Homo sapiens: one gene and its partners. The protein of the gene in region 4 interacts with the protein of the main gene of each other region in a pairwise test. Each region holds a gene or a part of one and is shown on either strand. Other genes may lie near its edges.

What was found.
Region 1: the proteins of DAAM2 (region 4) and KCNIP1 interact in a two-hybrid assay, tested with the Homo sapiens proteins (one large-scale study listed by BioGRID).
Region 2: the proteins of DAAM2 (region 4) and TTC3 interact in a two-hybrid assay, tested with the Homo sapiens proteins (one large-scale study listed by BioGRID and IntAct).
Region 3: the proteins of DAAM2 (region 4) and TH interact in a two-hybrid assay, tested with the Homo sapiens proteins (one large-scale study listed by BioGRID).

The regions. Positions count from the first base shown.
Region 1 is NC_000005.10:170,509,594-170,515,029, forward strand, and holds part of KCNIP1 (A-type potassium channel modulatory protein KCNIP1), read left to right. Parts: intron 1-5,436. UniProt on the Homo sapiens protein: Regulatory subunit of Kv4/D (Shal)-type voltage-gated rapidly inactivating A-type potassium channels. Regulates channel density, inactivation kinetics and rate of recovery from inactivation in a calcium-dependent and isoform-specific manner.
Region 2 is NC_000021.9:37,198,601-37,204,036, reverse strand, and holds the end of TTC3 (E3 ubiquitin-protein ligase TTC3), read right to left. Parts: intron 3,806-5,436; coding exon 3,713-3,805; intron 2,598-3,712; coding exon 2,463-2,597; 3' UTR 930-2,462; downstream 1-929. UniProt on the Homo sapiens protein: E3 ubiquitin-protein ligase which catalyzes the formation of 'Lys-48'-polyubiquitin chains. Mediates the ubiquitination and subsequent degradation of phosphorylated Akt (AKT1, AKT2 and AKT3) in the nucleus.
Region 3 is NC_000011.10:2,166,072-2,170,700, forward strand, and holds part of TH (tyrosine 3-monooxygenase), read right to left. Parts: coding exon of another isoform or gene 4,619-4,629; intron 3,801-4,618; coding exon 3,579-3,800; intron 2,595-3,578; coding exon 2,420-2,594; intron 2,109-2,419; coding exon 2,020-2,108; intron 1,863-2,019; coding exon 1,795-1,862; intron 1,415-1,794; coding exon 1,364-1,414; intron 962-1,363; coding exon 816-961; intron 698-815; coding exon 562-697; intron 479-561; coding exon 409-478; intron 1-408. UniProt on the Homo sapiens protein: Catalyzes the conversion of L-tyrosine to L-dihydroxyphenylalanine (L-Dopa), the rate-limiting step in the biosynthesis of catecholamines, dopamine, noradrenaline, and adrenaline. Uses tetrahydrobiopterin and molecular oxygen to convert tyrosine to L-Dopa.
Region 4 is NC_000006.12:39,790,054-39,795,988, forward strand, and holds the start of DAAM2 (disheveled-associated activator of morphogenesis 2), read left to right. Parts: upstream 1-2,322; 5' UTR 2,323-2,412; exon of another isoform or gene 2,413-4,685; coding exon of another isoform or gene 4,686-4,698; intron 4,699-4,719; exon of another isoform or gene 4,720-4,738; coding exon of another isoform or gene 4,739-4,907; intron 4,908-5,935. UniProt on the Homo sapiens protein: Key regulator of the Wnt signaling pathway, which is required for various processes during development, such as dorsal patterning, determination of left/right symmetry or myelination in the central nervous system.

The DNA of each region.
Region 1 (5,436 bases), on a different chromosome or scaffold from region 4:
ATGAATGAAGCAACAAATGAATTATCAACTGAATGACAGAAAGAATGATCGAATAAATGACCACATGAATGAATGAATATGTCCATAAATGAATGAATGATGAAGTGCCAGAACAGCTATAATTAACAGCCTATCTTTTCACAAAGAGCATTGATAGTCATCTCCCCAAAGTTGAAAAATATAAATTCAGTCAAGAAGAGTCCTGGTAATTTTTTGGATACTGGTAGGTGTATAGTGTCTTTGGAGAAGGTGAGGAGATGTCTCTAAGTTTTCACTCTTTTGCTGAAACAAAAGCAGGGACTGACTCACAGTGATTCCCCTTGTCTTCCCTTATATTTCAGGTTCGTTCACCCTTGCCTGGGTGAGATCAGAATCTGTATATTTATCCACTCATTTATTTGTTCACTTAGCCAGTCCCACAATTGTCCTTCAGCATTGCTTCCCTGCCTAAGATCCACTCTGGCTTCCTCATCCTCCCTCTTCCTCCATCTCCTCATTCACCTGGCCAACTCCTACTTATCTTTCAAGGCCTCATTCAATGCCACCGCTCTGGGAAGCCTTTCCTGGCTTCTGTAGGCAGAGCACATCTCTGCCTTCTCTCTTTCCCCATAGCTGCTGCTGCTTCCCTTAACTACAATTCTGAACACACTATGAGGTTGTCATTATGGGTTTACACATTTATCTCTCTGACTAGCTTTCAGGCACTGAGTCTTATCCCAGGGCCTCTGTCAGGCCTGACACTGCATCCAGGCTTGATGGATGCTGGCGGCATGGAGGTAAGGATGGATGGGCCAGAGTGTGCGTTCTTGATGGCTCTGAGCGGTGTGAGAATGCGGCGGTGCAGATGAGGAATCCAGGTCTGCTCCTGGGGAGAAGCTCTGCAAAATTCTGCATAATGGCCGTGGAGCTGATGTTCCCATTCATCAGGCAGGGAAGGAACAGTTTTTAGAAAAGAGAGAGAGAGCCTAAGAGTCCTAGGGCCTTCAGAGAAACATCTCTTTAAATGCTTCCCCTTCCTCCGGGTAGTATTTTAAATAGGTCACCTTCTGGAAGTAGTGGTAGTCAGTTGGGATATTGCTAGCTTCCCGTACCCCAGCCATGGGAGTAGTACTTTGGATTAAATCTTGTTATTCAAGGCCAGACTAAAAGCCTCATTGGTGCGGTGGGGGGAAGTAGGAACCACATTCCACTCAAATCAGGAAGCTAGAAGTAGGATTGCATTATGGCTATGAGCACCGCGTTAAAATAAGAGTCTTGGGATTGAACTCCCTTTCATTGGTTCATAGCTGAGCCTTTCCAGGCCTCAGTTTCCTCTTCTATAAAATGGGGACAGTGGGCCAGGTATGGTGGCTCACATCTGTAATCCCAGCAGTTTGGAAGGTCAAGGTGGACAGATCACGAGGTCAGGAGTTCAAGACCAGCCTGGCCAATATGGTGAAACCCCATCTCTACTAAAAATACAAAAATTAGCCGGGCATGGTGGCATGCTCCTGTAATCCCAGTCACTCAGGAGGCTGAGGCAGGAGAATCGCTTGAACCGAGGAGACGGAGGTTGCAGTGAGCCAAGACTGCACCATTGCACTCCAGCCTGGATGACAGAGCGAGACTCCGTCTCAAAAAAAATAAAAATTAAAAAATGGGGACAATGACAGTGTCTCCCTATAGGGCCACGTGAGGGCCAAGAAGGAATTGAACATGGTGCTGCACACCAGGTGAGTTGGCAGTGCTGGCTTTGCTGCTGCCTTTTGTCCCATCTCAGGACAGGCCCCTTCCTTCTGCCTTGCTCCACTTGGATGATGACGGTGTTACCCTTGGTAATCTCCCCATCCCTTTGAGCTGTGGCCTCTGATTCCAGCCCTCTGAGATCCCGAGCCACCATATCCATGGTCACTGGCATTCTAAGCAGTTTCTCTGGTGATTCCTAAGGGAAGCTGTCAACTTTAGATGGTAAAAGCAATTCCCAACAGTGAGGTATGAAAATGCAGGTCACCCGCCAGGAAGGATAATAATACTAGCTCAAATGACTCTGGCCTCCACCCAGTGCCAGGCACCTTGCTCGGCTCTTTCCTGTGTTATTTTATTAACCCCAACCCTGGAGGACAAGATGCTATTACAGTTCTCATTTTGCAGTTGAGGAACCTGAGGCTCTAAAAAGGGAAGTGCCTTACTAAGGGTCATAGAGCTTGGGAATCGCAGAGCCTGGTTCTGGTTGATCCCAGACCCTGAGCTTCTAACTGCCATACTAACCTCCTCTCCTCCTGGCTTTGCCTCTGGAACCTTAGGGACCTGAGTAGAAAAACAGTCAAAACGGGTGCATGGATGTTGGGGAGAAGGCATTCAAGGATAGACTGAAGCACCTCATTAGCCACACGGAACAACTGAGCTACGTGCAGGCCCTGAGCAAAATGCTTTTAGCCCCATCCCAACCCCGCCTCCCCCTAGATCTGTTTCCATTTCATCTGACACTGTGGAAGCCTGAATATGAAATGATTGGGGGCAGAAGGCCAATTAGCAAATTCATTAATAGGATTAAACATCTCTCCTCTGCTCTAATCATTTATGTGAACTAAAATTTTCTCTCTTTGTTATAGCCATCATTGCCTGTCAGTGAAGATAGAGTGTTTAAATATCTTCCAAGTATGTTAGAATTGCAAACGTTCAGAACCAGGGACCAGGATCAGAGTTTTCACACGGTCCAGGTGGGCAAGGAGATCAGTCGGTTTACAAGTGGTTATCACTGCTAAGAAAAAAACACAAGAACTTGCTAGTACATTTGCAAGTACCTTACTGCTCATCTCCTTTCTCTCCTTAGCCACATGTTGGCCCAAATCACCTGCGTATGTTATACGGTTGTTATGAGCATACACTCCTGGTTAGGCAGACCTAGAATTCAAATCCTGGCTCTGCAACTCATTAGCTGTGTGACATTGAGCAGGTTACCTCGCTTCTGTGAACTTTCATCTCTACATAATCTAGAAAATGAAAGTATTGTTGATAATTCCCTCCCAGGTTGTTATGAGGATTAAATGCAGTCATGCATGTAAGATGCAGCGGTCAGCACTCAGAATGCGCTAAAGGTAAATTGTTACTATCTGGGTCTACTCCACTTAAAGTGTGCTCCTCCAACCAACAGCCTCAGCATCAGTTGGGAGCTTGTTAGAAATACAGAGTCCCGGCCAGGCGCGGTGGCTCACGCCTGTAATCCCAGCACTTTGGGAGGCCGAGGCTGGCGGATCATGAGGTCAGGAGATAGAGACCATCCCGGCTAACACGGTGAAACCCCGTCTCTACTAAAAATACAAAAAAATTAGCCAGGCGTGGTGGCGGGCGCGTGTAGTCCCAGCTACTCGGGAGGTTGAGGCAGGAGAATGGCGTGAACCCAGGAGGTGGAGCTTGCAGTGAGCCGAGATCGCGCCACTGCACTCCAGCCTGGGCGACAGAGCGAGACTCCATCTTGGAAAAAAAAAAAAAACCTCAACTCAGTGAGACCTACCCAGTCAGAACCTGCATTTTAACAAGATCACCAGATGGTTTATATGCCCACTGGAGTCTGAGGAATACTGGCCTAAAGTACAGATTATGGAACTATGTGTATTGTATTACACAAAATTATATATCAAGCCAGAAGAGGCTTTTGCTAAGACTTCTGATTTAAGCCTCATTTTACAAATAAGAAAATAGAATCCAGAGAAGGTGAGTGGTTTGCCCACAATCACACAGCTCAAGTGTTAGGCCTGACATCCGAACCCCAGCCCTGGTCATCTCATATAAATTGTTAAGAAGTCAGATTTCCAGATTTGCATTTCTGCAATCAAGCTTGTCTGTTTTTCTTTCTCTCTCTTTCTTTTTAACAACAAAGAAGTGCAGGATGATGTACGCCCATTAAGTTTTAGTTTACTCATTTTAAATGTTATTCCAGCCAACAGAGATCCTGAATCTTGACTCCACCAGCCATCATCTTAGCTGTACCTCCAAGTTTTCTGCTACCTGAAGAAATGATAAGGAGGCATTCTAGGTCTTTATCTAAGTTGCTTCTAAGAACATGGGCCAGAACAGGGTGCAGGACAGAGCCATGTGGACTGCAACTAGAGACTTGCCTGCATAATGGATTTCACTGATAATGTTCAGAATCCCAGAGCAGGATGGCAGCCTGGTTTACATACAGAGCCTTTGTGTGGGATTTGAAGCCAGAAAATGTGACTAAAGTAGGAGTCTAAACAGACACAGGTAGGGCCTGGGGAATGAAAGTCAAATGCCTTTTCCAGGGGGTCTAGTAGGACCTCTCTGTTGGTGGGGATCCCCCAAAAAAGTAATCTTTTTATTTTTGTAGGAGTCCTGTAATGGTTTCATTATTATTCTCACTTTGCAGAGTAGGAAACGTAGATGCAGGGAGGTTCTTGATTGGCTAGTGATTAGTAAGCAAGGACTTGAAGTGGATCTGATTGCGAGGCACTCCACCACCTGGGCTCCTGCCTGCAGCTGGAGGGCATATCCAGGACAAGCAAGCCTCTGAGCCCCAGGAAGAGGCTGAGCAGTTACAGCTAGTTTCCCAACTCCCAGGAACTGAAAATGACAGCCTCCTCTTGGCCCCATCAGCTCCTCACCCATGCCAACCCTGGACCCAGAGTGAGGGATGTTCTGGTGGAGACCATGAAGCTCCCAGCTGCCTGGGGGAAGCTGGCACATTTGCATCCGTGTGGCTGAGGCTGCACTTTCTCTCCATCTCTGGGATTCGCCCATGTATGACTCTCCCAGATGTCCAAATTGTGCACTCAGCAGGGGTGTCTTCAGGAGGCTTCCCCACCCATCGAAATCAGGGCAGCAAGGGGCTCCCCTTGTCTTCTTCCCTCTTTGCATACATCCAGCCCTGGGCTGATTAGGACTCTAAGCCCTGTAGGCCCTGACACTAAAATAATCAGGTCCTCCCACCACTGCCCCGCCCTGCCTCACCCCACCAAGGGCTACACAGGCATTTCAAAGGAGAAACAGTAAAATAAGTTTAAGGAAGTCTGCCAAATTTGGATTTTTCCCATGTTGACTACTTTAGTGACTTTTCTGAAATAAAATGTGCTTTCAAAACACAATTTTTGATGCCTCTACTTTGCTAGTGCTTTAAGCATCTCTTGAGTGTGCCTGTGAGGTATTTCAGCATTGGAGTTGGAACCAGACAGGAAAAGGAAAGAAACCGATCTGTATCGGGCACCTGCTGCATGCCAAGGACTGTGCAAGGTGTTGACAAAATAACAACAGTAACAAACATAACATTTAAATCGTCCTTGTGACATTTATATAGCAATCTGTGCCAAGTACCACTCTAAGCGCTTTCGGTACATTAAGCTAATTTAATCCTCACAACAACCCTATGTGGTAGGTAGTGTGATTATTCCCATGTAACAGATGAAATCTCACACTATGAGAGACAGGCACTGATCCCCC
Region 2 (5,436 bases), on a different chromosome or scaffold from region 4:
AATTTTATACCAGGCTATCCATTATTCATAACATAGATTAAGCAGTTCAGCAGGGAAAACTAATCTAAAATCTTTTTTTTTTTTTTTTTTTTTTGAGACGGAGTCTCGCTCTGTCACCCAGGCTGGAGTGCAGTGGTGCGATCTCGGCTCACTGCAAGCTCCGCCTCCCGGATTCACGCCATTCTCCTGCCTCAGCTTCCCAAGTAGCTGGGACTACAGGCACACACCACGATGCCCGGCTAGTTTTTTGTATTTAGTAGAGACGGGGTTTCACTGTGTTAGCCAGGATGATCTCAATCTCCTGACCTCGTGATCCGCCCACCTCGGCCTCCCAAAGTGCTGGGATTACAGGCGTTAGCCACCGCGGCCGGCCTAAATTCTTAAGGAATAGTCATTGCTTTAAATTAAATTAAATGCCATCAGACTAAAAATACGTACTGATAATACTTTGAATACACTTGAAAAAACAGAAGACAGATTTTGAAAATGAGCTTTCTTCAAATGAGCTTTCACTCTGTGAGTGCTCAGCATACCCAGAAGCCCCTCTATAGAGGAAACCCCATCGACAGCCTCAGTGGCCCATAAATCCACAAATGCCTCAAAAAATATACCAAGGAATGCAATTTATCTTCAACATCCTTATATGTATTCACATGAAAAATCTCTTAATTTAGCCTTAAGAAGTAAACTCTATCATCTCTGTGTGAACTCCTATAGTCGATCTTACGCAGGCACAAAGGAAAATTCTGACCCAGGCCCTAAAACGCCCTGAGATCCCTGGTCAGACTCCTCAGACACAGCATGGCGTGGCTGTTCTTTCCTGACGAAAGCACTCTTAAAATGTTAGCATGACATACATGTCCTAAGTTTTCCAGAAGAATGCATTTTTAAACTTCTCTAAGAAAGAATGGACAAGAGTGACAGTGAACTTCTCATTTTAGAATGTTCTTTATTCTGACAGTTGTTGGACAAATATAAGGCATGTTCACAAGTATCTGAAGTTATGTACAAAACACACTCATTCAACGGATGTTCCTCTTCTCCTTTTGTACTTGCTGCTGCAAACTGATCCTCATGCACGTTAACACCCATAGCGCTCAATTCTTATGGATATGCAGACAGTGTTTTGGGGACCACCGTGGAGAATCTGTTTCAAACTAAGGCGTGAGCTTCTAAGAACTAAGTCACTAAGACATCAGAACTCACAGTGAACAAAGGCAGAGGAAGGTGACCAAATCAGCTCATAAACTCATGACTCTAAGTTTCCAGTGGAACAAAGAACACATTGAAAAACATTTTTTGATCCTTCATGTTGGAGAGAAATGGAATGTGACCAGAATTCATGGTTCTATATTTACCACTGTCTAAAAGTCACAAAACAATATCTAATTTTTTCATGGTTTCTAATGCAGTTACAGTTTTGTTCTTAGGTCACAGTACAAGACTGCATGCATACTTTACACAAATATCAAACACAGAACGATTGTAACACAGATACCTCAGGGTTGTCTAAAGACACAGCTTCTCTTTTTGTGGTGGGGTGGGGAAGGAGAATGGTGGTGGCCATTTCCACACACAGCCTGTTGTGTGCTCAGCACGGCTGGATGCGGATCCCAAGCACTCGCTGACTGACTCACAGAAGAGGACAGAAGCTGCTAAGGAAGGCAGCGGAGTTCAAAGAGCAGGCTCCAACCGGGGGCTGGGATGACGGACACACAGCCTCGATTCCAGGGGGAAAAAGTCTTAGTCGATACTAATTAAAAAGTGTTAATGATTTTTGAAAATCAGATTACATCTATAAAAGATGAAAAGCAAACACTTAAAACAATCTAACGGGGGAACATAAAATAATAAAAAATCAAATGCAGATGGGATTTCACAAAGAGGAGATTTGAATCTTTTGGTCTAAATCAGCCAATATTTTAACATTAACTATAAATTATTAAAATATAGTTTGCTTATGCCCATCCTTAAAATGCAGAATCTTTGAGGAAAAATATAGGCATATCAGGAATACAGACTCTTGTAAAAAATTTAAAAAGTCAGTATCATCTCTCTTGTGGAGCTACCAGAACAGGTTTTTCAAACAGAAAAGGGGAACAAACGTGGGGAACAAACGTGGGGCGCTTGGCTATGTTAAGAATTCTTATCACTAGAATACTGCTTCGAGACGTTCATAGTACTTTCCAAAAGAAGCCACCCACCTCAAAGAGCCCTGCGCAGCCCCAGTGACCCATGAGTGTGGTAGCCGTCATTTTATTAGCCACTGTTGGCAATCATCAAAGTATTCACTCAGAGTGGGGAAATTACTTAATATCAGCGATATTAACGATTTCCATGTATTTAGCTTTGTGACACACAATGCACAAGGGTCTTCAAATGTTTGTTTTTTACACCAGTGGTAGAAAATTGTCATTCTTCGGATTCAACACACTGGTGGATGACACTTTAGTGAAGTGTGACTACCTAGAAGAGCAGGAAGGCAGCTCCTGATTCTGACTGGGCCAGCCTCTTCCAGAAGGTGACTCTTCTGTCAGGAGATCACGACCCTGGCAGGCCGGGCAAGCGCTCTGCCCTTTAAGCCACTGCTTAAAGCACTGAAAAGGAGAAAACAAAATCAGAAGATGCCTTCAGGACCATGAGGAAGCTTAGCTCCCCTGTGCTGCTGGGCTCCTTGGCAGGCGTGGCTCACTTGCCCTTGGTCTCTTGGGCCTGGAGCTGCCCAATACTCAGGGACACCAACACCCGCTCAGGCCAGAGTGTGGACAAAGCCCCAGCCGCAAACGATCCCACCTCAGGGTCAGATCCTGAGCGCTCTGGGCCTCCAACCTGGCCTCAGGGGGTGGTCTTGCCCTGATCCCCGGTTCCAGGCTCGGCTCTTCCACTTCAGCTGCGCCAAATTCCAGAGCCTGGCATTCTCGGCCCTATGACCCAATCACTCATTCTTAGCCCATCCCTTGGCCTGGCCTTGGCCCTTGGCTCTGGAACAGCCCTCCAGCCTGCACGCCACACTCCTGCTGCTGCTGCCCACACTGCAGAGGCTGTGGACAGTCAGCTAGCCCAAATATAAGACCCTGTACCCAAGGAGGCACACCACACCAGAGACTTGGCAAGTGGTCTCAATTCCTTTCAGTGAGCATGCTGTATTTATCCCGTTCCAAGGGATTAGCAAATCCCCATGGCAGAGACCTGATCTGTTCTAACCCAGCAGCAGGGGTGCACACAAATGCTCACGGTACCTAGAACACCATGATAGTTCACACACAGATCCCAGAACGGTACGAGCAGGACTGTCCCTGGGTCAGGCAGAAGGGACTCAGCTAGGTTTAGTTTTTCTCCTCTAAAATGTTAAACTGACTTCATATACTACACTAAGTCAAAAAAATGGTTTCACTGTTTCTCCATTTAGTCAAGTGTGTAAGAAATCACCTTTCAAGGAACTAATACTGCTTTGAATCTCAGCACTAACGAGTGGCTGGAGCTGCTGTTCCCCTCTCCCCACAAGGGATGGAAAGGACGGTCTCCAGAGCTGCCCTTCCTGCAGAGCTGGTGTGAGGACAGGGAGGCACTGAACACTGACACGGGAGGTTTGCAAAGAAAATAGTTTGAAAGCACAATAAATACTGATGACTAGAAAACAATTCCTTTCTTATTTTGAAAATATTTGAAGGTCCCAATGCATGCTGTAAGGATGGCCAAAAAGAGCTCTTACCCCTTTGTGATACTTGTGCCCACATTTGAGCACACGCACGTTTTTTGATTTGAACACCTCGTGGCATATTTCACAGGAACTTGCACCCAGTGCCTGTGGAAACAAACACACCTGAATAGTAAAGAATAACTACAGTTGTTTTTATGACACGAGTTCTTCCTTCAAGTGGCCTTCAAACATCTTCTGCCACAAAGGGTGGCAAATTATTCACAATTACAGCTAAACAGTCTGAGGAAACAACTTATTTTTTAATAGCATTTCTTAAGAAAAAATATAAAAATACAAAAAGAAAAGTATAAAGTTCTAATTTCCTCAGAGAAAAAACTGTTTTATGTGACCAGAAGATCCCCAGGTGAAGATTACCATACCTAAAGTACAGTATGGGATAATCACATGGCATGGTGTGAATTAATCATACATTTAATCATCTAACAGTTGAGGGTAGTAAATTCCAACACATCCACACAATGGGCTATTGTGTAGCCAAAAGGAAAATCATGACGGAAGCCCATAATCCCTGACATAGAAAGCTGGCCCCAACAGCCTGCTGAATGAAAGCAGCTAACAAGACAACATGTATCATATATAACTCACTTTTTAATAAAGGGGCTGCATGTATACATACATGCCTAGAAAAACAGTTAACAGTGGTTGCCTCAGGGTAAGGGAGATTTAATCTTTTTCTTTACTATTTTCTAGTTTCTATGAGCATGGATTACTTGTGCAAATCAAAACAAAACAAACGGATGGCTCATCCGGCAAACATCCATGGGCAGGGTTGGTGTCGGGTGCTGGACGCAGAGATGAATGGAGGGCTCTGGCCTCAGCGGCTCACAGTCTGGTGAGCATAGACAGTGCTTTCGATGTGAGAGCAGACCTGAGTGTCGCCTGGGACTCCAGGCACAGTTCTCCCTGCAGCTCACAGCACTTACCCTTACTGCACCATTAACTTCTACTCTAGCTCACTGCCTCTTAACTCTGAGCGCCTTGAAGGCACAAAATGAGTCCCATCTGGGTCTTTAGCAGCTGGCAGAAAACCTAGCTCAAACTCATGCTCTAAAAACCCCTGCTGAGGGAGTGGGCGAATGCAGGCAGCCCTGGCAGTGGGATCAAGTTCAGGGAGTGGCACTGGAGGCATCACCCCAAGGCTGAGAAGACCTTGAACTGCTGTTCAGGGTTTTGCTGTCTCTCCCAAGGCATGACTCGGCCCAGGAGGAGATGGGGCAGATGCTGCAGAAGGAGGGTTCATGCCCCTCCACTGCTGCCCATGACTCGAGGGTCAGGGAAGAAGAGGAAGTGCCAGACCGGGGAAGAGCCATTGAAGGCCTCTCCAATGCCCAGTGCAAAGCTCGGAGCCAGGTTTAGTTTGAAAAAAATATACACTTAACTTGACCGTTTTCTATTTCCTAGAAAAGATGGGCACAGTATATTTCTAACTAAAAGAAAAAAAGGACAACCACAATAAAAAAAAAAATGGAAAACAACCAAAACATTCAGCCCCTCAGAGAACATACAAAGTGTGACTAGCGTATTCAGTTTTGACTAATTCACATATCCATGCATTCAAGAGTTTAGAAAAATATATACCAAAGTGGTAATACTGATTACAGGGCGGGTTTTTAAATGCCCTTTTTATTTGTATTTTCTATTGTATGTAATACTTTGTAATTTGAAAATTAATACTTTTAATTTTAACAAACTATGGTTATCAAATTAGGTCCCAG
Region 3 (4,629 bases), on a different chromosome or scaffold from region 4:
AGGATGAAGGATGGGGAGAGGCAGCCCTGGGTCATGCTCGAGGTGGGGGCACCGGGGGTGTCAGCAGCCCCTCCAGGGGTCTCTGGGACACTTCCCTGGCGGCAGAGACCTTCCCTGGCCGCCCAGGATCCGCACCTCCACCGGGCCTCCTCCTCCAGGCAGCCCTCCTTGACCACATTCCTAAGCCCGTGGGCGCCGTTCCCAGGTAGCCGGCAGGTGGCAGCACAGGCCGTGGGAGGCTCCGCTCCAGCCCCGCCCTATGCCGCGCGACCCTCGGGGCGCCGAGCCTCCTTGGCGGGGCCCGGGAGCAGGCAGCACACTTCACCCACCCGCACATCGATCCCCGCCCGCCCCCGGCGCCAAGCCAGCCCCTGGGTGACCCCGGCTCCCTCCGAGGCCGCGGCGTACCTGCGAGAACTGCGCGAAGGTGCGGTCGGCCAGCATGGGCACGTGCCCCAGCAGCTCGTGGCAGCAGTCCCTGCGCGTAGGAGGGAGAAGGGGGCTGAGGGGCCGCCCGTCGCACCCCCCACCCTCGGGCTGGCGGCCAGGGCGCGCACTCACGGCTCAGGGGAGTGCATGGGCGAGGACGCGTGGCGGATATACTGGGTGCACTGGAACACGCGGAAGGCCAGGCTGGCCAGGAAGTCCCGGGCGGACAGCAGGCCGGCCACAGGCCGCAGCTGGAAGCCCGTGCGCTCTGCAAGGGGCCACGCGGGTCACTGCCGAGCCGGGACGGGCTGGAGCCGCGCTGGGGTGGGGCGCTTGGCTGACCATCCCCGGCCCCCCGGCTCTGCGCCCCTCCCGTCTGGGCACACCCTTCAGGAAGCGGGAGACGTCCTCCAGCTGGGGGATATTGTCTTCCCGGTAGCCGCTGAAGCGCTCCAGCAAAGCAAAGGCCTCCAGGTGCTCCCCGCAGGCGTGCGTGGCGTAGAGGCCCTTCAGCGTGGTGTAGACCTCCTTCCTGCGGGCAGCCAGGCTCAGGGCCCTCTAATGCCCCACCCCAGTGCCCGAAACCCCCCTCCTGAACTGTGGGTGCCTCTGCCTGCCTGAGCCCCTACCAACGCAGGCCTCTTGGGGACCCCTGAAGACCCAGGCCCCCGGGAGGGGCTTTTGCTGGTGGCTTTAGGGAATCCCAGGGGATAGGGGGCCATGAGGGGCGGTCCCTCAGCACACTGGGGATGGCCCGACAGGATGGGTAGCCTCTTCCTCCCAACCCAACATTCTGAGCCCTGCAAGTCCCTCTTCTTCCCGGCCTTAGTCTCTCCTGTTGTGCCAAGGTCCCTGGAGGCGGCCCTCACACGCCAGGATTCCAGGAGGCATCCCCCGGGCTCCTCCCCAGCCCCTAGCTGCACGGAGGTCTCACCAGGTGGCAATCTCCTCGGCGGTGTACTCCACACGGGGAATCGGGTCGCCGCTGGGGAGGGGGCCAGTGGTCAGCAGGTCCCCTCGGGGAGTGAGAAGGGCAGGAGGGAGGGAGGGAGCTTCACTGGGCACAGGTCCACACCCGCCTAGTGCAGCGAGGCCTTTGGGTTGGAGGATGGACAGGAGGGTGCACCCCAGCTGACTGTGCCGTGAGCCGGCTATGTGGCCTCGGCAGGTTGCTCTAGCCCCCCTGGGCCTCAGTTTCCCCACTGGGATTTGGGGACATGGAAAGCCCTGGAGCAGAGCTGCCTGGCAGGAGGCACTGATGCTGGTGACAAGATGGGTCCTCCCCTTTGTCCTTCCCTCCCACCCCCCAGGTCCAGCGTCAGCCTGCAGGACGGAGTCTGGGTCCCGAGCGCAGGGGCCCCTCACTGCCTGTACTGGAAGGCGATCTCAGCAATCAGCTTCCTGCGCTGGCGGTACACCTGGTCCGAGAAGCCCTGAGGGCAGAGGGGATGCACGGGTCAGGAGGCTGTGCTGGGGTGGGGGCACAGGCCACGGAGGCTCCTGGAGCCGACAGACTCCTGTCCAGGGTTGGGCTAAGGGTAGGGGATGTGATCAGGGGCAGGAGGCCTGAGTGAGGGGCGCACCACTCACCGGGTGGTCCAAGTCCAGGTCAGGGTCGAACTTGGTGACCAGGTGATGACACTTGTCCAGCTCTGACACTTTTCTTGGGAACCAGGGGACTTTATGGGTGATGGAGGAAGAGATCTTGGTGAGCTCGGAGCCGTGGGGCTGTGTCACCCACCTTGAAGCAGCCTCCCCTACAAGACTTCCGGGGGGCAGAGGCAGCCGGGGCTGTGAGAGCTGCGGGGGGATCCTGGAGTGGCCCCAGGCCCGGACACGGATGTGTAGCAAAACGGGGTGCGGAGTGGAGCCCGCAGAGAGGGAACCAGGCCACCACCACGTGGTCACTGTAGGGTCCCCCTGCAGGAGCCCCTGCACCCCAGCCTCTCAAGGTCATTTGGTGGCCCTCAAGGACAGAAAACCGCCTCACCCTTGGGCCCCGCGGGGCTGCGCACGTCCTCTGACACCTGGCGCACACCACTGAGCAGGGCGGCCAGGTCCCCTCGGCGCACCTCGAGGCGCACGAAGTACTCCAGGTGGGGGCCCCCAGCTCGCGGCCTCTGGGCGGGCCGGGTCTCTAGATGGTGGATTTTGGCTTCAAACGTCTTAGGGAGCAAAAGCAGGAAGAGAGAGAGAAGGAGAAAGAGACAGAGATGGAGAGAGAGGGTGGGGTGGGCGGGGAGGAGGCACATCTGGCTGGCTGGCCAGGCCCTGCCCTTGACTTTTGTGCTAGCAGCACACAGATCCCGTTCTTCCAGGCTCAGGTCAGCTGTCGGCCACCAGGCCAGGGTTTGCCACTGGCAAGTTGGATTTTGTGTTACGTGCCTAACCAGGAGTTGTCACCGCTTGAGGCTTAACCTGGTTCTGGGCGGCTCGGTGTGTGTGTCCCAAGGCCATGCCACACAGTCCGGCTCCTCAGCCACTGGTCAGAAGGTGCCCCCAACCCTGGTGGCCTCATCCAGGTTTGTAGGATGGGCCCTGAGTCTCACTGGCCCCTGAGCGTCCAGGACACTGGCCAGAAGGGTCCGCTCCACCCCCACCTCCTGTTGCCTAGCAACAAGGGCGGTGGGTCGCAGTGGCCCTCGGGCCACAAAACTGGCTCTGGGAGCTGGGGGGCGGGGAGTCTGGCTTTAATGTCATTTGGGAGCTTCTTCCGGGAGCTGGGTCACCTGCCTCCCGGGGCACAGTGGGGCCGGAGTGACTAATGCAATCAGTGGTCACCTGAGCCACTGTGCTGGGTGGGTGGGAGAGGGCACACTGCCCTGCCCCTGCCTCTTGTGCTGCCCTGCTGGGAGCCCCCCACGTGGGAAATGGTGGGTGAGGGGGATCCAGGGGATGGGCAAGGCAAGAGGCACAGTGGGGCTTGGTAGCCTCAGCCCTAGGGGTGGGCTCAGGATCCCTCAAAAACACGGGGGTGTGGCTAGATGCCATGGGGGCTGAGCTGAGGCCTGAGACTCCCCTGCTGCATCCTGTGCCGGCCTCGGGGGCCTGGGCAGCTGCACCTCTGCTATAGAGGGGTCAGGAACTCAGCCCACACAGCCCCACCCACAGGTGAACTTGCCCCAGGGACACGAAGGCCACCAGCTCACCTCAAACACCTTCACAGCTCGGGACAGCGCCGAGGGCTTGGTGGCCCTCGGGGAGAAGAGCAGGTTTAGCACGGCCTTCCCCTCCTTCTCCTCAAAGGCCACAGCCTCCAGGGGGTCCCCGGGCTCCGAGGGGACTGCAGCGGCCGCTGCTGCCACCGCCGCCTCCCGCTCCTTGCGGGCGTCCTCGATGAGGCTCTGCCTGCGCCCAATGAACCGCGGGGACTGTGGGGACAAGGGGCACCCATGCCTCCTCCACCTGCTGAGACCCGGGGACCTCCACCCACAGCTGGTCCCACAGTCGGGCAGCGCTGATGGCACACAGAGGCAGGGGATGAGAGCACGTTTTTGAGCGCCTACTGTGTGCCTGCTGGGGCAGATGCTAGCCGAGGTGCCTGCGGGCATTGCACGCCCTTCCCGATGGGGGCAGCCCAGTCAGAAGCAGTGGTGGTGGGGGAGGAGTGGGGGCTGGGAAGGTGCTCGCCTGCTCCCCACTCTGTGGCGAGCAGACAGACAGAGACGCTGTGTCACTCATCCCCAGGCCAGGCGCTAACTGGATTAGTGATGGGAAGAGGGCGATGTCTTGATGGACAGTGGCATCGGCTGCCGGGGAGGGAACGGCAGCTCAGGAAGGAGCTGCCCCCACAGGGCCCCAGTGAACAACCCCCCTACCCTCCTGGCTGCCGCACAGGGGACCCTTTCTCACACTCCCATCAGGACACCTGTCCTCGGGCCCTGCCCCTCTGTGCCACCCCGCAGGCGCCCGCTCCTGGCTGCCTTGTCATCCCTCCACCCTTTGTCATAGCTCTGGGCGCAGGTGTCTCTCCCTGGGCTCAGCGCCTCTGACCCCTCGATCCCAGAGCCGTCCCAGGCCTGGACAGAGGGGGACTTGGCAGACACCTGGGGCTCATCCCTTGGAGCTGAACTCCCAAGAAGGCTCTGGGCCCCTTGTAAGAGAAGAATCAGCTTCATCCTGAGCTTCCAGGGTTGTGGAACATGAAGGGGAGCAGCAGAAGCCCCTCCCAGAGTCCCCTCTTACTTACCCTTGGGGTGG
Region 4 (5,935 bases):
TCGTGCCACTGCACTCCAGCCTAGGTGACAGAGAGAGACCCTGCCTCCAAAACACTTGGGCAAGGATGGAGAGACTCCCCTCTCCCAGACCTAGAATGCTTGCTCCTCAGCCTCACTTCCCCTGTTTCTGTCCTCATGATGTCCCCAACCTGCCACCTCTGAGTCTCTGGCCCTATCTTTTTTTGTGTTTTTATTTATTTATTTATTTATTTATTTATTTATTTATTTATTTATTTTTTTGAGACGGAGTCTCGCTCTGTCGCCCAGGCTGGAGTGCAGTGGCGCAATCTCGGCTCACTGCAAGCTCCGCCTCCTAGGTTCACGCCATTCTCCTGCCTCAGCCTCCGAAGTAGCTGGGACTACAGGCGCCCACCACCACGCCTGGCTAATTTTTTGTATTTTTTAGTGGAGACGGGGTTTAACCGTGTTAGCCAGGATGGTCTCGATCTCCTGACCTCGTGGTCCGCCCGCCTCGGTCTCCCAAAGTGCTGGGAATACAGGCGTGAGCCACCGCGCCTGGCCAAATCTGATCTTCTCTTAAAGAGAGTTTGTGGAAGGCATCCTCTGTCTTCTGTATTACAATCTCACTGGTCAGAACTTGGTCTCATAGCAATTGTGAGCTACCAGGGAGTCTGGGATGGTGAATATTGTAGATTTCTAACTTCTTTAGTTGAGAAAGGCAAGGGAGAATGGGTTTGTCAATGGCTTCTGGAAACCTATTTGCAGGGTCTGCTGAAGAACAGAGCTCACCTTGCCAGTGGAGCCTTGATATGAGAGAGGGAATGGAAGGAGGTAAAAGTGGGGTATTATGCCAGGGAGAGCAATCCCACAGTGACCAAACAGCAGCTCCCTGCTGCAGGGCCCTCGGTGGCTTGGGTCAAAACAGCGTGGCCTCTACCGAGAGGCCCAGCCCTAAGACAGCTCCTTCTGGCAATCAGCTCTAACCAGCTGCTGCCAAAGAGGTAAACACATTCCAAGTCCTTGAGTCCCTGCTGCACTGTAACTGTGGTTAAAACACAACCCCGCCTCTACCAGTTTGGGCTAATGGAAAGTTCACTATAGTTGTGTTTTAATGATGATTTGCAATTATCCGTGCCCCCTCCCATTCATGGTGAGATGAATACCTAAACACTTATGTTGTCTAACCATATAAGTATTTTGCATCTCACGTGTATCATTTTAAGTTCATTTCATTCTCCAATCCTTGGGAACCATGAAGGATAACACATTACATTCTCTTTTTTTTTTTTTTTTCCTCTGGAAGATCATGCATTACATTCTCTTTTTTTCTCTGGAAGGGTGGCCCTTAAACCAAGCCATTTCCCTAAGCCCCTTTGGTGAGGTGGAGAAACAGACAACCACTAACACAGAACAACCACTGAACACCCAGAAAACTGTATACAGGTCATCACCCAGTGGGGGCACCATTTGCTTGCAGAGGGAGCTGGGGAAAATAGGAAACAGAGAAGATCAAATACTCCCCGTGAGGGTGTTGCCAATCCCAGAGAGGACAATTGCTCTTGACCAAAGCAATCTCTAGTTCAGTCAAGGAGACAGACCACAATCACATTTAAAAAAAAAAGAAAAAAAAAAACTAAAAGGAAATTTTAAAAGTATGAATAAGAGCTATTGTAAACTGCTCAAACTATGCATACAAGCAATGAAGTAAGATGAATTGACTGGCACTGAATTGGAAAAGCTATACAGAGGCAGGGAGTGTGGAACATAATTTAATAAAAATAAACTTAAAAAAATATATATACACTCCCAAAAAAGAAATGGAAAAGTTGTTAGGGCGTGGACCAGGACTCCTAATTAGCTGTTCTGTTGTGCCTGATTTCGCTCCTGTCTTGCCCAGCACCCCTTGGGACACACTGTCCAGTGCAGGGACACTTTGGGGAGGGACAGGGGATTCCTTGGCACCGGGACCTTCACCTCCGAGCCGGCCTCAGACCAGGCCATTTGCCCGTAGCCCAGAGGAGGAGCCGGGGAGAAACCCGCTGCCCAGGTGGCCACTTTTGCCTCTTTGACCCTTCCATGTTTCCAAAACAGAAGGGGCCCTGAGAACGCTCCCTGCCAAAGTGGGGAACAGCTACCCTCATTGTACGCCTCGCCCTGCCGGTGGCGCTCTCCCCCCGCCTGCGTTCGGTCTGAAAGTGTGAAAATTACAAATCCCAAGAAACTGCAATCAGAAGTCTACCTAGGGAAAATTCAGAGTAACCTTGCCATAAATATCCCGCTCCAAGACGCCTGACGTCAGAGCGGGGCGGGCGGACGGGCGCGAGGCCGGGCCTGGAGGGGCGGCAGCCGCGGCTTCCCGGGGATAGCGCGGAGCACGCAGCAGCGAGCGGAGCGCGGGCGGCGGCGCCGTACCTCGGGCTGCGGGAGCGCGGGCGCCCTGGGGTCCTCGGAGTAAGTGCGGCCGGCCCTGGCGCTCCCCGTCTTGGGGCCCGGGCCGCGGGGAGCCCTCTCCGCTGGGCTCCCACACTTCTCTCCCTCTGCTTTCTTTAGCATGCCCCGCGGGGCTTGGGGAGGCAGCAGCTCCGCAGGCTGGCGGTTTTGTTTCTCCAAAGTGTTTGCAGGAGCCGCCGACCCCGGAGTGGGCTCCCAGGGCCTGTGTGTGTGTGAGTTGTGTGTGTGTATGAGTGTGATTGCGTGTGTCTGTACTGGCACATCTGGACATAGGAAATGTCTTTGGAAAACTTTTTAAAAATGTTTTTTGCGGCTTTGAAACCTGACCCCTGGTTGTCACAAGTGGACAAACACAGAAGATACCCCGCAAAACTGACAACTTTTTGGTGGTGGCTTTTCCGGGTTCGGCTTGAACCTTCACTTGGCTGGGCTGAAGTCTTCACAAGCCCCCAGCTCCCACTTGCAGGCCTGGCCTCTGGCCAGTGGGCAGGGCAGCCGTAAGGTTCTTGTTCTCAGTGGCAGTGGGACCCTGGGCGGGGGAAGGAGCATCTCAGGAAAGGGGTCCCCGGACTCTGGGGCTCTCAGCACCTGCGGTCGCAAACCAACCTCATGCCCTGACTTTACCAGGCGTCGGGACTCTGACTTAACCGGGGAATGAGGGACTTGGTCTGGCGGCAGGTAATTTTGTGAAGAGGATGAGAAGGAAGAGGGGGAGGTGGTGGTGATGGCCAGGACGCTGTGGCCCTGTGTCCAGCCGTAGCTTGGGAGTGGGATGGTTGGTTCTGCCACATGGCCACGGTGAGGTACGTGCCAGGTTCTCCAGGAGTGCCGCGTGTGGTGCCCCAAACAAGATGCAAGCTCCTAACATAAAGAGACGTGTCTGAGCTGTGGGGTGGAGGAAGGGGGGCGGTGGGGGAGAGGGAGATTTTTATCAAAATTGAACACAGATTGCTGAGATCTGGGCTTGATTTAACTCTTCTCTCTCTGCCTCGGCCACTTCTCCACAGTTTTGGAGTGGATTTGGAACGTTTCTCGGAGGGTTAGAGGAAAATCACACCTCTCCGGAAAAGAGTCCCCATAGGTTTTCCCTTGATGCCCACGTGGGAATGAAAGCAGCTTCCCATCTTTAAAAAGTTCAAAGTCTTGTGTTTTCCCCCTTCTGAGTTTGGTGTTAGTTTCCTGAGTTTCTTTGCAAAGCCAGCTGAAGCGGGGGATGGATTTTCCCTAGGGCCTAGGGCGGAAAGTGTGCTCCACGGAGAGTAGGGGAAAAAAGCAGCAGTGAGGCTGTATCGATCCATCATCCCTGAGTAGCACAGTGCCAGGCACTGCCTGTCAATAGCTGGGTTCCACAAACGAGTGACCACAGACAGACTGAATTTTCAGCTTTGAGCTAGCCAGGTCTCTGGTTTTGTATTTTGCAGTAGAGCCAACCTACAATGTCTGGGTGGGAGGAAGATTACTGGACTCTCCCTCTGTCCTAGAAAAATGAGAAAATGAAGGGACAGGGAGGAAATCTGGATGTAAAAACAGACCCACAGGAAGTTAAGATTCAGGAAGGATTTTAGAAATTATATAAATTGAACCCCAGGGAAGCTCCATAAAAGATGGAGCAGGCAGCAATGTCAGAAACAGACTCATTTAACTTCAGGAGTACGTTGTCAACTGAAGTGTAATGAAGGAGGAGGAAATCATCCCATAGGCAATGTAAACAAGGGTGCATGTAAACAGGAGTGACTGGTCCCCATGAGATGCACATGCCTATGTGTTTTTACACATACATGACTGTGTGGTGATGGCCATGGCCTTAGACATGGGAGGATAAATGGTCTATTTCTTCATCTGTGCTGGGAACTCCATCTAACCCCCATTTCTTCCTTTATGCAAACAACTGTGCTATTATTGTCTTGCTCCCTGGTAGTTGCAAACTCTGGCTCCTAACTCCCAGCTGAGTTTTCAGAGCTTTTCCTCCAGCGCCTCGGATGCTGAGGGAATACTCGTGCCCCCATCAGGACAAAAAGAGGAGAGAACATTCTCCTGGGCATTAGAACTTAGAGAGTCAGGGGCTCAAGAAGGCGGAGGCTGTGCAGGCAAGACCAATAGGAAGGCCTGTAAATGATTTTGTTTTTGGTGAGCGTGGAGGAAGTTGAAATACTACTGCTTGCTGTGAGAACATGTTCTCTCCCCAGTCTTCTTTCCCGACTGTCTCCAAAGTTTTTGATGCAAAACAGATTAAACTCCCCATTACTAAAGAGCCTTGGATCCAGGTGTAAAGAATGAAGATAAAGGGTAAGTACAGGCAGTAGAGAAAGCATAGAGATAATGAAAGATGAGGCTTTCTTATTTGATTTTACTAGAGCCAATGGAAGTAACAAGTTTAAATGTTCTCATTCATTTCCATTATTTAAACATAGAAGACTACCCAGGGACAGAAGGGACCCCTCGGAACAGGATTCCCAGAAATACTCTTATCCCAGCATACAACTCCTCAGGGACAGGTGAGGGGCAAGAACTGGGTTTTCAACTCTTTCTACATGTGGGGTTTCTGGGAGTGCTGCATGTGGGATCAGTGGAGTCCTGATGCTTCTGGGCTTGTACTAGGAGACATTTCACTATGGCCGGGATGAATTCCCAGGCCATGGATGCCTAGGCTGACATTGAAGCCTTCTCATGGCTCATTCTATCAGTTCAATCTTCTGGCCAGCTCTTTGGTCATCTTTGAGATTAGATTAAGTAGATGGGATGCATTCCAAGACATCCTTGAAGGTCCAGAGGGCAAACACAGCTGGCAGAAAGAACAAGTTGAAGGATATCCTTGGCTTTGATAGCGGATGACCCTCTAGATCTCAACAGCCAGAGACTCTGTCAAGGATCCTGTGTCATTCAGCCCTAGACTTCAGAGGCAGCCCGACAACAATGGAAAGAGTGCAGATTTCTGATCAGCTGCCTGGAGAGAGAGAACTGTGACCTAAATACGAATTAGTAACCTGGGCTACATGACTTATTCCTTCTGAGCTTCAGCTTCCTCATCTGTAAAATAAGGATAGTATTTCCCTCCCCAGGTCATTATGAAAACATTTATGCACAAGAACTAAGAACAGAGCTCAGAATGTTATAAGACCCTTCATAAAGGGAGTGCTGTATTTTTATTTTTCAGTTTTTCAGCCATCACAAGCCAGTATTGCTTGGAAAGAACCTCTCCCCAAATCTAGCTACATATTTTCCATGATTGAAGGCTAGTGGGTGGAGTTTCTAGGGCTCTGATCATCCTTACTTCCTTCCTCTAGAAAAGGTGACCAATGAAGATATTCCATGAGCATCCCTGGTCCATTATCCTGAAGTGTGGGAGAAGAAACCAGGGATCCTGGATGTCTGGCCTAGAAATCACTCTTGTGTTTGTGCTCTTTAGGGAGGGAGAAGGACAGAAGAGCAGGTTGTATAAGTATGGTGGGGAGGGGAAAGGTAGGGAGGTGGGGGTAGGGCAGGAGGGTCAAGGACCAATTGGATCTTGAAGGACAAGCCTGAG